Linked DNA regions of Homo sapiens: region 2 is linked to region 1. Evidence: fine-mapped expression QTL. Tissue or cell type: esophagus muscle. Region 1 holds a variant in brackets; the other region holds the start of a gene. All regions are shown on one strand. Distances are between the middles of the regions.

Region 1 (8,173 bases):
TCCTTCATTTGTTACTAAGCAATATGTTCACTATACATATATACATCGTTATTAGAGCACAGATATTACATGATCATGCTGCCATTCAAAATTAAGGTGCCACAGTTTTATTACAATCAAATGGCATCCAAAATGCAATGTTGCTATGAAAATTCAAAAGTTCTCACAGATTGGCATTTATGAAAGGAGTAGGTCACAATGAAATGGAATTTTATTTTGTACAAATGGAAAAGATTTATCATAAATATATAGACCAATATATAACATTGAAGAACAAGAAGCAGAAAGGAAACAATGCTCTTGCATAAAGATCAATTCGCTTTGCTGCTGTTGGAATAACAGGTTTCGCAGGGGGAGGCTTCTTGTTGTTCTTAGCCTGAGATTTCCCAAGTCCGTTGTTAACTTCAATGGGTTTTCCATAGCAGTCATAATTGGATAGTTCAAAATCTCTTGGTAAGCTTCCAACAATGCTGAAGTCATTAGATCTCAGATCAGACTTAGAAGTACAAACTTTTTTGCATCTGGTCTCACCAACCTAAGAATAAATATTGAAGACAATGTATTTAAAACTTTTCTACTTACGAAACACATCTCTTCAAACGATATTTTTAAAATTGCTAGTTTCTACAAGAAGCATTTGCTTATGTCACAAAGAACTAACAGAGAGAATGGTTATCTGATTAAACCATCAGATTGCCTGAGCATTTAGGGCTCTAAAATATTGCCTACATAATAAGGCTTATGTCATGGAATGAACTTTTGATTGGTTATTTCATGCTAAGGAATCAAAGCTCAGATTAATTTTAGGTGCTACCAGGCTTGTGAAAGTTCTCAGTTGTAGGACTAATAAATAAACATCCATTTTTGCTCCAATATTTAACCATGACAGAGACAATATTCTACAATGTATGGATTATAAAAATGTTCTGATATTACTAGCCTTTGACTTCCTTATAGATCCTATTTCCAAGTAGAGCGGTTTATAAATGCTAAGTAATTTATCTCTCCAATGAGACAGACTTTCTCTAAGCCACATTCACAAACAAGGACTAAAAAATGGTCACAATTGTCATGAATCAAACGTTTACTAGTGATAGGCATTCCCAACTTGTTGGCTGAACTTAACCAATCACGCTCAGACAATACAAAGGAATTATGTATCCTTCAGATAGACCATATGCTACAGAGATTATTATTCAGTCACTAATTTCTGAATTATTAAATTTGAATAAATTCCCTATAATATATAAAATAATTACAGTTACAACATGGGTTTGAACTGCAAGGGTCCACTTATACATGGGCTTTTTTTCAATAAATACAGTTGCCCCTTGTATCTATAGGTTCTGAATTTACATCCAAATGCAGATCAAAAATACAGTGTTCACAAAATCCATGGATATAGAGGGTCAACTTTTTGTATCCACAGGTTCCACAGGGCAGACTGCAGGGACTTGAGTATGCATAGATTTTGATATCTGCAGGGGATACTGGAACCAATTCCCCACAGATACAAAAGGACAATTATATTTTATGCTGAACTCTCTCTAGTAATCAAAATGCTCTTAGATTAGAGGAGTAGGCTAATACCAATGATTGAGAATAGCACTTACATATTACAAAAGTCCACAAAAAGGTTAGCTCTTGGCTAGATTGCTTCATTTTCTCACTGTTCTTACCATTGAGTTTTGCTATTCACCTTCAGAATCTTCACTATTGACATTTACTCAATTTTTATTGAACATGGAAACCATTTAATTGTATATTATTAGTATATCACAGTTACTCTAGTAACTGCTTTATTAATATAATTAATACATTGACTAATTCTATAGATTCTATTTACATTTACTAAATTATAGCTGGGTTAAAAACACTATACCTCACACAATAAATAAAACAAATCTTTCCTCAACAGTACTTTAGGTACCAGGAGACTATCCTTTACCTGAATACACATATATTTATATATATATTTCCTAGACAAGAGCCAGATAGCAGTGTTCAAAGGTGGATAGCAAAAATGCCCAAGATAAAGTGACTGACAAAGCAAGTTAAATGTATTTATACATCCTTCTGTGATTATACATTTAAATTATTACCATTTCTTCTCTAATTATGAGCATATATTGATGTTATATTTCTTAAGCTAGCATACAAATGTTGGCTTTGTTATTATATACTTTATGCCATATATATATTTGTAAAATGCCAGTGGGTAAGAAACTTTTAAAAAGATATTTATGTAAATATGTTTGCAGAAAAATACCCAAAAAATGTTGATGAGGAATAGGGATTGAGGAACTAGAAGTTCACCTTTCTATACATTTGATATTTGAAAAAAAAGATGTAAATCACCAACATGTTGACTTATTTAGCAATTGTTCATTATAAAATAGCCCAAATGGAAACATAGTCCCATCCTTGTTCAATAGGACTTTGAGGTAGTATTTAATAGCATGATTTTTTTTTCTAGACAGTTTCATTATCATACTACCTCATTTTTGTTACCAGTAATTTTCAGAAGTGACAGAAGTTTATATGATGAAAGTAAATGAGACACATATTCATAAGGAACAATTGAGAAATTATTAATTGTAGGTTAATATAGCCAAATTCGCTTCTAAGAATGTGTGTCAAGAAGTAGGCCAATGTGAAAAAAGTGGCTTCTTGTCTGCACCCCCTCACTCCACTTTTTTAATGTGCAGTTACAATTTACCAATTGTGAGAGCTCAACTGAGTGTGAAAGAGCAGTGCCTACATCTGCATGGCATCAAGAAGTACGGACAGGCTTTAGTCCCTATCAATTTATACTCTGTATCTAGCAAAATGTCTGACAAAAAAAAAAAAATAGGAACTGGTTGATGTGGTTTGGATATTTGTCTCCTCCAAATTTCATGTTGAAATGTGACTCCCGGTGTTGGAGGTGGGGCCTAGTGGGAGGTGTTTGGGTCACGGGGCCAGATCCCTCATGACTGGCTTGGTGTCCTCCCTGGGGTAATGAATGAGTTGTCCCTCTGTTAGTTCAAGTGAAAATTGACTGTTAAAAAGAGCCTAGCACCTGCCCTCCCTCTCACTCCCACTCTTGCCATCTGACATGCCAGCTTTCCTGCACCTTCCACCATAACTGTAACCTTCCTGAGGCCCTCATTGGAAGCAGATTCTGATGCCATGCTTCTAGTACAGCTTGCAAAACCATAAGCCAAATAAACCCATTTTCTTATAAATTATACAGCCTCACGTATTTCCTTTATAGCAGCACAAAACGGACTATACACAAGTCGAAAGAGTGAGAGAGAGAAAAAGTAGCAACTAAAATCTAAACTCTTTAAATATGACTTCAGGAAATGCACACACACACAGAAACATATACAAATATACATCTAATTTTTGCCCCATTTATCTAAGTTGAATTTTTAAAAGACTACTTTCATCAATTTGTCCACCACCTCACCTCCAACAGTACTTGCACAGGCATGCATGCATGTGCACACACACACAGACTTGCACACTCACATCTGCCCTATTATTGTTACAGACAGAACATCAGAGAGAAGACCACATTTAATCTTCAGTTTTCCAGTGCAGTTTGAGGAATGTGTGAGTCTCCACATGTATCAGTGAACTTTTGTAAAGAGTAACTCACTATCTTGATTGGAATAGAAGTGGAGAACAGACTGTACATATCAAATCTTTGCATTGCCCTAAGACTTTCAGAGAAATCTTTAAAATCAAGGATTCTATGTGTATCATAGTTGCTCTTTCTCCCTTTAGAATTCCCCATTATAAAGGCTTTAGATGTACTCATTATGCTTTTGAAGCTACTTATCATAACAAAGGAGTACTCTAGATTCTGCCTATAGACTTAATGGCTTAAAACCAAGTATATTTAGAATATACTGTAGAAATGCATTTGCTATAAATCATATTTTTATATCATTTTAGGTGTGGTTTTAGTATCTGTAAATAACTAAACAAATGGCCAAATTTATATAATATTATAACCTAGGCCACAAATAAATATTTCCAATTTTCTAATCTATTTTATTTATATAACCATATAAATTCTGCCAGCAATTTAAATAATATTAGGATTTGATCCAGTTTATTCAAACTATAGATATAGAATATTATGTTTATTCACAGAGATTACTTATAGTAAACATGTCAGTAAGAGAATAATTTTTTCAGTGTTGAAGCCATAACATTACAAAGCATTCCAAAAAAGCTGCAAATTGGTTATATTAAGTTTCTAGCCATTTAAGTCTTTAAAACGTCTCTCGGAGATATATTTGAAGATTCTTGTATTCAAGAATAAGTAGAGGTGCACATGTGGGGTGGACGGAACCTCTATTACAGAAGTAATTTTTAATGATAATGACATACTGAATAAAGAATAAGATTAGTTTCCCTAATGAGAAGTACTCAGGGCTTCTTAAATAGGTCATGGTTCATTAAGTAGTTGGCTAGTCTCCTTGCCCCATTCATCACAGATTTTACACAAAGAAAATTTTCTGTTACACCTTATTATCATATCAAATATATACATGAAAGTACAAAAGAGTTTACACTATAAATACTATTTTAAACAGTTATAACATCACATGAAAAGAGATGAAATAAACTGCTTATAAACAAGACATTAACCCTACTTAACACACATTCTTAAAAGCGAATTTGGCTATATTAACCTACAATTAATAATTTCTCAGTTGTTCCTTATTACAAATATGTGTCTCATTTACTTTCATCATATAAACTTCTGTCACTTCTGAAAATTATTGGCAACAAAAATGAGGTAGTGTGATAATGAAACTGTCAAGAATAAAAAA[AC/C]GATGCTATTAATAACTTTCTAATGCCTCCAACTTTAGCCTCTAAGATTTTCTTTGTGGTTCTTTTAAGTTTCATTCCACACAAATTTAAAAGCAAATAACTTTATGCAGTATTTCTTGACCAGAATAATTAGGCACGATTTCATGTCAATAATGGCATCCTCTACAGACAATAAAATATGTTCAGAGGGAATAATTTGTATATATTTTGCTAAATTTAAGTCCATTAAATCATTACCATTAAAAGATCTCCTTTACATATAAACAGCAGCTTTTATTTTCTAATTTATATAAAATTGTAGGCATAGGTACTATTTTCTTTGTCTTTTATTCATAAAACCTTTGTGTATGGCACATACTAGTGTTAGAAATAGGGTGACATTAACAACAGTAGGTTCTTAACTGCTTTGTTGAATAAAAATAGGAATACATGAATGAACAAACAAAAGTAACCAAGATATTGGAATGACTGAAAAAGCACCACTTTTACTGGGAAAAAAAATCCTCCAGACAATTATATAGGCATGGTAACATGTTTTTGTATACAGGCCACAAATTATAAAAACCTCATAGTAAAAGCTATACATTATCATTTAATTTTTTTCTACTTTTTAAATCATTCATTTCCTTAGGAAGCACAATATTATTTTATACATCAGCTTCAAACATTTCCTACAATCCAAATTATATTACACTTCTGTTAATTATTATTGTTATTCTATTGAATAACAATATTGAAATTATTTGGCAAAAGTTTGCATTTAGAAAGGCAAAGTACATTAGAAAAAATGCATTTTGAAACCAAAAGTTTAATTACATTTTTCATTGCAAAACCATTGAATTAAAAAGATAATAATTTATAAATTTCTACTTTTATATCTTCTTTCATATGTCAATATGTAAAATCTTATGACTCATCAAGTTACACATTTGATGTAAGTTATTATTAGACTCATGTTATCATTTTGAAGCCTGTCTCAGGAAACAAATATTCTATGGGTACAAAGTTTATTCTGGAAAGTGCATTTTTGTCCTGTAAAGAATAAAAGTAATTTACATTTATTTCTAAAGATTAAAATTTCTGGTCAATTCTTAACTCTATGCATCTCTCGTTGTCTTTTGAAGCAAAATGTCACAGCAGTTTCAGAATTCAAACAAGTGTGTTTCTATGAGCAGTTAAAAACATAGAGAATTAAAATATAAAAGTTCTTATATGTGTTTAACTTTTATTTATTGGGTAATTATTTTAATTATTAGTTTTAATTTTAATGCTTTAAAGATAAACTTAAAATAACATAATTGGGTTTACTACTTCATGGATCCTCTCATCCTTGCTATCCATGTTCATAAATAATCTGAATGTATTCTACAATGCTCTAGAAAGCTGGTTCTAGATAGCCTCCTTCTATCAGTACCCCTACTTGATGGAATAGATTAAGGTATCAGGATCATTGCACATTAGTATTCTGTTACTACATTTAATTTAATGTAGTAACAGAATTTAATTTAATTGCTTATTAGTATTGTTACTACATTTAATTCCTGTGCTTATTGAGGACCTATAATATACCAGCCAATGGAGCTGATCGTAGGGATTACCAGGAATCAAGCACCTGTTCTATAGAGCATCCTTGCTTTCTGTATCCAAATCTCTTAACCAGAGGTCAAGTTAGAGGGGATTGGTGGGCTGGAAATGTGAGGAAGTGGTAAAAGATAGGGAGATGTAAATCGAGGAGTAGATAACAAGTGTCAAAAAATCAGGTAGAGAACACTTCCACATAACATAAGGCTCTCAGGTAATCTTCCTTCCATTTCTGGCCTGGAGAAATAACTGTATGCTTTAGAAGGGGAAGCACAGTTTCTCACAAACAGTATGCTTTCAATACCAGTTCTTCGTCATGCCAAAGCATGCCCTTAAGCAATCCCTTAGTTCTTCTGGATATTATGTGGCTTCTTAGACTTGGGTGGTAACAGAGACAAAAAAAAAAAATACTGGTAAAGGGAATAATAATTACTCCAAATGTTTGTTTTCCTGGTGTAGGATTTTAGTAAGTCTGAAATGACCCAGTAGACAGAACAGCAACAACAATGAAAGTGTTAAGAGTAGCCCATTGATAAATCTATTTAATTATTAGAGTGTGGTAGGCAGGGTGCAGGTATGATGAGGATGCTGAGGGCCTCGAAAAGCATAGAGGACTTCTACATCCAGGAAGATAGAGTAGACATACCTTTCCTATTCCTCCTGCTAAGTTCAATAAAAAATCCTGGACATTATATTAAAACACACACACACACACACACACACTCACACAGACAGACTATAAAAGGGAGAGAAGAGGAAGCAGATGAGCCTGGGGACTCAGGATCCCAGGAACCATAAAATGGTGAGTTCCTGCATTCCCCCTTTTGTCTCATATAATCCCAGATTTGGAGCTAAAGAAGCCAGCAAGTGGAAATGCCAATGGGTACAGACATAAAAACCCCAACAGCCTCCGATGTTTAGCCAGAAGACAAAGAAAGGGGCAGCCCAGCAATACAGAACACTTTTAGATATTAACCTCTCTATTCTTGCCAAATACTACAGAAAAAAATGTGCTCCCACCCCACCCCAACGGACATGCCAGCAATGTCCAAGAGGTGAGGGGGCCAAGGCTTGGACTTTAAAAAGGCTGTGATGATCATAGGTTCCAAGATGGCCAAATAGGAACAGCTCCAGTCTACCCCTCCCAGAGTGAGTGATGCAGAAGATGGGTGATTTCTGCATTTCCAACTGAGGTACCGGGTTCATCTCACTGGGGCTTGTCTGACTGTCGGTGCAGCCCATGGAGCAGGGTGGGGCACTGCCTCACAGGGAAGTGCAAGGGGTTGGGGAATTCCCTTTCCTAGCAAAGGGAAGCTGTGACAGATGGTACCTGGAAAATCGGGACACTCCCACCATAATACTGTGCTTTTCCAACGGTCTTAGCAAATGGCACACCAGGAAATTATATCCCATGCGTGGCTCGGAGGGTCCCATGCCCACGGAGCCTCGCTCACTGCTAGCACAGCAGTCTGAGATCGAACTGCGAGGTGGAAGCGAGGCTGGGGGAGGGGTGTCCGCCATTGCTGAAGCTTGAGTAGGTAAACAAAGTGGCTGAGAAGCTCAAACTGGGTGGAGCCCACCACAGCACAAGGAGGCCTGCCTGCCTCTCTAGACTCCACCTCTGGGGGCAGGCCTAGTTGAACAAAAGGCAGCACAAACTTCTGCAGACTTAAAATGTCCCTGTCTGACAGCTTTGAAGAGAGTAGTGGTTCTCCCAGCACAGAGTTTGAGATCTGAGAATGGACAGACTGCCTTCTCA
Region 2 (8,188 bases), 91 kb after region 1:
AGACTTCCAGCAGCATCACATCACAACTGTTAATAAAGCTTGATCTAGTCTCATAATTATTTTTAAAAAACCTATAATGTAAAAATTCAAAGATAAAATTTCAATTAATTACTCAACATATCTAAAATATTGAGATGTGGGCTTAACAGGTATATGTTGGGTCTTCCACTTGAAGATGTCATATTCATCAGAAGAGAACTCTTATTGTTATACTCTTTATCTACTAAATTTAACTTTGAAAATCTGTCTTAAATAACTATACACACCGTAAGTATATACAGTCTACACATAAGGCTATTTAATAATGTAGTTGTGAAAAGAGAATGTCCTCTAAAATACTCTCGTAATATATATGGTAGTTATAAGATTTGCTGTTGCCATCTTCAGAATAATTTGATTATGACATTTGATGTAGGATGGGGGGTGGGTGTACTGGGAGAACAGGAGCCTTATCAGCTTGCTCAGATACAGAAACCCAAGATGGCTTGATTCCATACATAGAATTACGGTGACTATATGACATAGACAACAGTTTGTGTTAATGTCCCAACATTCATCAAAGAAAAGGTAATAGAAAGAATATCTAAAACACAAAGAAGTGTCCTTTCGCTTAGGAATACTAAGGCCTGACAATGTCCAGTTCCCTAAAATGCTAATCTCCAGCTTGTGGCACAAAAACAGTAACAGTGAAGAGTTGAGATGGTTGTAGATTGTGGTTATTCCTGAACCTGCCTCCATTGTTCCCAGCTGATATCCAGCTGGGCAGATGGCCAAGGAGGGACACACAAACATAATTCAGGGCCATTGTGTCATATACCCAGAAATTTGGCCCTGACATCAGAATATGCTGCAGCACTAGAATAAGCAGGACTATTAAGGGTGAAAATCAGGAAATATCCCTTCACATGGAGCTGAATTTAATGCTAGACATTACGTGGATCATGATACTCTCTCCAGAATTTTACTCTCACAAATTCATACAAACACCTATTACAAAATACCAATTCTAGTGTCCTTTCTTTACAAAATATACTTCCCAAAATGTACCTCATCTCTTATGGAACATCTGTAAAACCATAATAATCTCTATTTAAATAATAATGATGCTGGAATAAAATGTTATCTATGATCAATATTACATTTGAGAAATATTAATTGAAGATGACCTGTAATAGAAAATTAACTTTTATTCCAAATCACTGCATATATTGCATTATTACCTAAAAGCACGTTATATTTTGAGAAAGTTGTTTACTTATATACTGTACAATTGCTCTATTTTACTTTCATTGACCAGTAATGTTAATCTTTCCTATTAAAAAAAAGACTTGGCCAGGTGCGGTGAACCACGCCTGTAATCCCAGCACTTTGGGATGCCAAGGCGAGCAGATCACCCAGGGTCAGGAGTTGGAGACCAGACAGGTCAACATGGTGAAATCCTGTCTCTACTAAAAAATACAAAAATTAGCTGGGCGTGGTGGTGGGCACCTGTAATCCCAGCTACTTGGGAGGCTGAGGCAGGAGAATTGCTTGAACCCGGGAGGTAGAGGTTGCAGTGAGTAGATAATTGTGCCACTGCACTCCAGCCTGGGTGACAGAAAGAGACTTCATCTAAAAAAAATAAACAAGACTCCACACCACAAAACTTTGTCTTTTGTGGGGGATGTGTTGGATTTAGAATTTGTGTTTTCAAGTAATTTCAAATTTAATGACCTGCTTTCTACAAAATATCCTAATCTCCTAATATAACCTATTTACAATTACTAAATTAGAAAATTGATCTATCATATGAATTTCCTTTTGCCATGCATACATATGAACTGACCTTAAGATCACAGTTACCTATCTGACTTTTAAATAAAATATTATTAAATATTTTAGGGTTTTTTTAAAAAAAAACTTTTTGAACTGGTATTTGCTCAAAACACAGTATATCAGTATCCAATTAAAGTTGCACAGCACATTTAGCATAAGAAAAAAATAGTGACTTTTTCTACTTTTGTAAACAGTGTATAAAAATTATATAAACCCATGGCATGATTTAAAAAAAGAAAACTATAAAACCACCTTGAACATTGGGAATTAATTCTTACATTCTAAACCTCTCCTCACCCTATCATTTTCTGTCTCTGTAACAGATGGATATACATTCCGATATGAAAAGTTTTGTTGATGTGTGTCTTCATAAACCACCTTACTTTTATAAAACACGCAATAACATTTCTCCATATAAGAATATAAGACATGAAGAACATACGATGGGCATAGATACTGCTTCTTTTTCCCCTTCCCTTTCTTTGAAGACTTTTCCTTAGAATAGGCTTCTTCCACCCACAAGGAAATTAAAATTAAAAAGGCAGTTGTCAATAAAAACTTCATCTTGAAAACTTGAATTTCAGAAGATCGATCTACAAGAGAGAACAAGAAAATGTTTACATTTATGAAGAAAATGATAACTATATGACTGTCCCTTTAAAGAGTATAAGCATTACTACCCAAAGGGCAAGTACATTTGTACATCAAATCCTCATTGCTCAGTCCTATGTGGTAATACTTCACAACATATTTAGTATTTTTTATATAGTAGTTGTAAAGTCTTTTTTATATAGCAGTAAAAGTCAGTTTAAATAATGGCACATAGAAAACAAGACCGCCAACGAGATATAATAGGTTACTGTATAAAATTTCTGATTCTATAGCTACACAAAATTATAAATTGATATTGAATTGCACAGTATATCAAAAATATGTTCAGAAAGATATCTGGAAGCATGGTTTAACACAGCGTTAAAATGATTATCTTCGGCTAGTACTTTGGAAGTATCTTTTTCTTTTTAAATTTTTATATTGTTTGAAGTTCTTATGTATATTTTTTCAAAAATAATGTATTTTAAAGAAAAAGAAATTCTAAGTATTAAAAAAGACAGATAAAAGAAAAAGTTAATATCAAAGAGTTCCACATTCAAAATTCATTGCTTTTTTTATTTAAACACATTACATTGGCAAGCTACCTTTTTGCCCCAAAAAGGTGCCTCTTAAGTTAGCTTTAAAGCTTTCTTACTTATTTGCTACTAACATTTGTCATCAAAAAGATTACTTCAGAAATTCTACAACAAGAAATAAAACAAGTGTTGTTACATTTTTTTCAAATTATCGTCCTAGCCATATTTTAATAACATTTTCATGCTCAAATCAGAACCATATTCTTGCCAGAGATTCTGATAAATAAAAAATAATTAAGCCTCTACCTACACTAGAGAAGTTCAAACTCTTCTGCAACCTTCATTTCCAAACCATAAATTGTTTCTCTTTCATTGTTTTCCGCAGAGTAAAAGACCTGTCATATTCTTCAACGCTAACTTAATTCCCATCTCACCCTCAGAAATTTGCTTCTCCTTATGTCATGTTTTTCATCTTCCCCCCCCCCCCCCAGGATTCTTCCCCCCATATTTATCTTTTACACACACTCCAGGCAAGCCAGAGGGGCTTCTCCCTGGGTACTTTAAATTGAAGACAACAGAGGGGGCTCATCAGACCAACAGCAACAACACAAGGTTCTCCTCTGGCAACTTCACAACATTGGACGCTCCCTTCCCCCATCCGACAGCGGCACCTGCTTCCAGACACCTTGCCCACAGCAGCAGGTACTTCTCCCACTTTCACATCCTTGCCCCCGCAAAAAGGAGGGCCGAGCCCCCCTAACGCTTCGAAAAACAGAGAAATTCACCACTCTGCTCTGTCCTCACCCCCAATCTTTCAAGGGGGACAGCTGCATTGACTGGAGGATCCTCATAAACAAAACAACGCAAGGAGCCCTCCTGGCCAACCTTGCGTTTCCTAATTACCCCGGCCCTCTGCATCTCTCCACCCGGAGCGTCTCCGCGGGCGCCACCGCAGCGGGGACCCGGCTGCCGCTGCCAGGCGCCCCGCGCCCCTCTCCCGCGCAGGGCAGCGCGCGTCCTCCCGGGCACGCCGCAGTGCTCCTCGCGCTCCGCCGCCCCGGGCTTGACCCGCTGTTTCCGCAAAGGCGTCTATTCCCGTCCTCAGACCACCGTCGCCGCCCCAACCCGCGTCCCCTCCTCCTAAGTGGAGCTCCTGGCACTTACCCGGAGGCGCCCCTGCCCACAATCGCCGGGCGAGATCGTGGAGGCTCCGGGCCCAGGTGGCAGTGGCTGCTAAGGGTGCAGCGGGCGCCGAGCGGGGGCAGCTGCGTCCCAGCCGCCCGCGCCACCGCCGAGCTCGGCTGACGCGCCTGCTCGGGCCGCGGAGCCTGCGCCGTGGCGCGCCGCGGTCGGGGCCGCAGCGGGGACAGCGCGGGCCGCGGGGGAACCTGGCGACCGCGGGCGGGGGAGGGAAGAGGTGTCCCGACAGAGCAACGTCACGGCATCGTCCCCTTCAGGCATTGGAGGGGTTACCGAGCAGAAATGTGTACCCCCCTCACTCCTTAGGGGACTAAAGGAGTTGGGGACGAAGGGCGGGAATGATAGTGTCGGTACAAAAAGAAAAAACCTTTCAAGGAGCTGGGATTGCTTGGGGTCAGCTTTTGACCACTAGCAACAAACAACAGAGCAACAAATGACCTTCTTGGGTCAAAGCGAACAAAACACATTTTCTGTCATTTCACCATTTGCCTGGAACCCAGACATCCAGCTTAATCTCCGGGTCTTCCAATTTCTAAAAGCCTGAACTTTCTGAGCAAGCTTAAATTGGTCAAAATTACTGACAATATAGTCATACAGGTAATACTATGTTTAACATCTGTTACATAATTAACATGTGTACAGAACTTGACAGTTGCAAAACACCTTTCACTCGCCTTATCTCATGTGGCCCTCACCACATTCCTGGGCAAGTTTTGTCATCCCCTTCTGTAGATGAAGAATCTGAAACTCAGTTATATTAAGAGATTTACTTAGAGTTACAGATCTTGAAAGAAATTTACCAGAGATTCAAAATTAGTGATTTTTGCATATCTGAACCAGACAGGGTCTCTGCCTTATAAGAGCAAAATACTGTTGTCCTCATCCTTGTGAAGAAGTAGCCCTTACTTGGATATGCAGCCCTTAGATAACAGATAAGGCTATCCTATTACCTCTTGAATGTATGCCTGATTGATTTTTTTTAATTGTTATTTTTTAAGCAACAGGAGCTCACTTTGTTGCCCAGGCTGGAGTGCAGAGGCACAGTCATCGCTCACCGCAGTCTTGAACTTCTGGGCAATCAAGAGATCCTCTTGTCTCGGTCTCCCTAGTAGAGTAGCTGGAACAACAGACAGGCCATTGCGCTCCACTAATTATTATTATTATTTTTTAAGAGACAGCATCTCTGGCTTTGTTGTCCAGGATGGTCTCCAACTCTGGCCTGAAGCCATCCGCCTGCCTTAGCCTCCCAAGCTGGGGGGCTTACAGGCTTGAGCCACCCCACCCCACTGCACCAGGTCCTGATGGATTTTTTTTATTAAAAAAGCATTGTCTCAAGTGAGCATCACTTAGCATTGTATTGTGGACCCACAGATGTATCCACTAATAAATTTTTCCACCCGCAGCATATGGAGGGAAGGAATATTTCCTGCATATAACCGTGTTCCATAAGCTTCATGAGATATTCTGCTGCCTAAGAGTAGTGATCATTAATAAGTGATCATTACCTTATTTACATTACAAAATGATCATTATTCAAAGAGCTGTACTGTTTGAAGACCCCCCCGCCAAAGTGGATCAGGATATAACTTTGGATTTTAATGCTTTATTAGAGAGAACTATATTGATAATATACGTTTCATAAGATATAACTTTTGGTGAATAGGTCATATGAAGAATGATAAAGGAATTAGTTTTCATGCAGCCAGGGGAGTTTAGAAGTTGGCGAAAACCTTACACTTAGTTTTCAATTAATCAAGAAATTATTAAGAGTTTAGAATAATAGGAATTCCGATTCCTGTAATAAAATGAACATCTTTTATTTACAAACTCTAATGTCCACATTTGGAAGAACTATGCTGAAAATACCTACAACAGACTTGCTCACCTTCCCTAGTATTGTTTCTGTGCCATCCATGGATGTTATATTGGAGAATTAGGTTATTCAGAAGAAAAGCAAGTCCAGCAGGTTGGATGGGTTTGTAGGGTTTTGGCCCAAAGGTTAAGAAATATAGTTGATGCCCTAAAAGCACTTCTTCTAGCCTGTAAAATGGTCAAGTTCAGAATTCTGAAAATTTTTTTCTATGAAAGTGATCTGCTTACCTATATTTCTATAACTTTTATATCATAGTGTGAAAAGGGATGCTTCTAAATAATGTCATGAAATAACCTATTTTCCCCAATTCTGTCAAGTGTTGATCTACTTTTCTCTATTTATTTCTATCAATATTCACTCCTTTAGTAATTTCATCTGGTCACAAGGTTTTAAACACCATGTTGATAGCTCCCATATGTACTTCTCCTGACTAGACATCTCTCCAGAACTCCAGACTCATCTATCTAACTGCCTTTTCAACATTTCAACTTGCGTATTTAATAAACATGTCAAACTCAGTGTGTCCCAAACTGAGCTATGGTTCTCCCTAAAATCTGCCCCACATTCAGCCTTCTCCTTCTCAGTTCACGGCAACCTCATCCTTAGGGTTGGTCAGGCTAAAAATCATGAAGTTGTTCTTGATTCCGCTCTTTTTCTCACACCTCACAACCAAATCTCTGAGGAAATCCTGTTTACTCTCAAATGACAACAGGAATTCAGCTACTTCTTATGATTTTTACTGCAGCCAACCTAGACTCAGTGACTTTCATCTCTACGTTAGATTACTATAATAGCACTTTAGCTACTCACCCTGCCTCTATCATTGTCCTCTCCTACCCTTGAGTAATCTCAAAACAGTAGCCAGAGTGATCCCTTTAAAACATGTCATAGGTCATATTGTGTCATTCCTCAACTCAACACCCAGCAGTTAGTCCCCATTTTATAAACCAGTGTTTACAATGGTCTACAAACCTTCAATTGTTATGCATCTCCTCCCCCTAACTCTGACTTCTTCTCTCCTAATGGCTCGCTCTCTTTCAGCCCTGCTGATCTTGCTGCTTCTCCAACATGCCAAAGCCAGGTATGGTCCCATCTTAGGTTATTGGCTCCTCTGTCTAAAATGCTTTCCCCCCAGACCACCACATGACTGACTCCCTCATATCTTCAACATCAACCCAGATGTCACCGTCTCACAGAGATTTATCCAATGTTATTTAAAAGTGCAAACCATCTCCCATCCAAAGATTTCCAATCCCCCTTTGCCTGCTTTTCTTTTTGTTTTCATAGTACTTATTACCTCCCAACTCATCATACAATATACTTACAGTTTGTGGCCTCTGTTTCCTTGCTAAAATGTAGGCTTCATGAAGGCAGAGATTTGTATCTATTTTTGTCCATTGATGTTGCCCACACACCTAGAATAGTGTTGAATGAATGTGTAAATCTTGGCCTCATTTATTAATTTCTTCAAATTTCATGTTTCTTTATTAGTAAAATGAAAATGACAATGCATAATTTGCAGGATTGTACCAAGAAATAAACAGGTTAATTGACGTTAAAAATCTGCTGCAGAGAAGAAAAGTCACAAAGAATTAACCTCCCCTATTTTTGCTTGTTTTTATTTGCTTAATGGAATGATAGAATTTTGTTGTGGCTGTTTTTTTTTTAATTATTTTTAATTTTTGTGGGTACATGCATTTTTTGCTTACTGGGACCCTGTTATCCATTTCTTTCTTGTACGTCTACACTGAGAACATTTTGTAGGCCTACATCTAAACACTAAAAACCTTCTAACCTTCTTTTCTTTCTTTTTTCTTTTTTTTTTTCTTTTTGAAACAGGGTCTGGCTCTGTCGCCCCGGTTGGAGTACAGTGGCATGATCTTGATTCACTGCAACCTCCTCCTCTCATGCTCAAGCAAACTTCCTACCTCAGACTCCTGGGTAGCTAAGGACTCTATTTTCTATGCATCCATCTTCACCTGGCCTATAATATATTTATTTTATTTGACTTGATAATAAAACCTAAATACAGCCCTAAATATCTTCTGTTATACTAAGAAATCAAACTTTGGATACAGAGAGAGTATTCTCACCAAATCATTTTTTGTGTGTGACATAAGTACTCATCACTGTTGCCATTGCCTAAATAGCCTTACAACATGGTTTAAAGATA

Alleles and levels. Alleles are on the strand shown, and positions count from the first base shown. SD is a standard deviation of normalised expression in the study named.
For the expression in esophagus muscle of the gene that starts at base 4,254 in region 2, C is the high allele of the variant in region 1 and AC is the other (moderate effect, 0.42 SD a copy in GTEx).

What was found. PIP is the estimated chance that this variant, and not a neighbour inherited with it, causes the effect.
Region 2: it holds the start of GLRB, and the variant in region 1 is fine-mapped to the expression of GLRB in esophagus muscle (GTEx, PIP above 0.99).

Annotation. Positions count from the first base shown.
Region 1 is chr4:157,162,794-157,170,966 of GRCh38, reverse strand. It overlaps GLRB (glycine receptor beta), which reads right to left. Exons shown (of 10, transcript NM_000824.5): 10 at 1-535. The coding sequence ends at 239. Among named protein-coding and RNA genes, the nearest start is that of GRIA2, 54 kb to the left of the region's middle. The variant AC/C (reference allele first, on the strand shown) is at 4,833.
Region 2 is chr4:157,072,216-157,080,403 of GRCh38, reverse strand. It overlaps GLRB (glycine receptor beta), which reads right to left and starts at 4,254. Exons shown (of 10, transcript NM_000824.5): 1 at 4,107-4,254; 2 at 2,258-2,408. The coding sequence starts at 2,379. RefSeq lists a silencer at 6,853-7,147.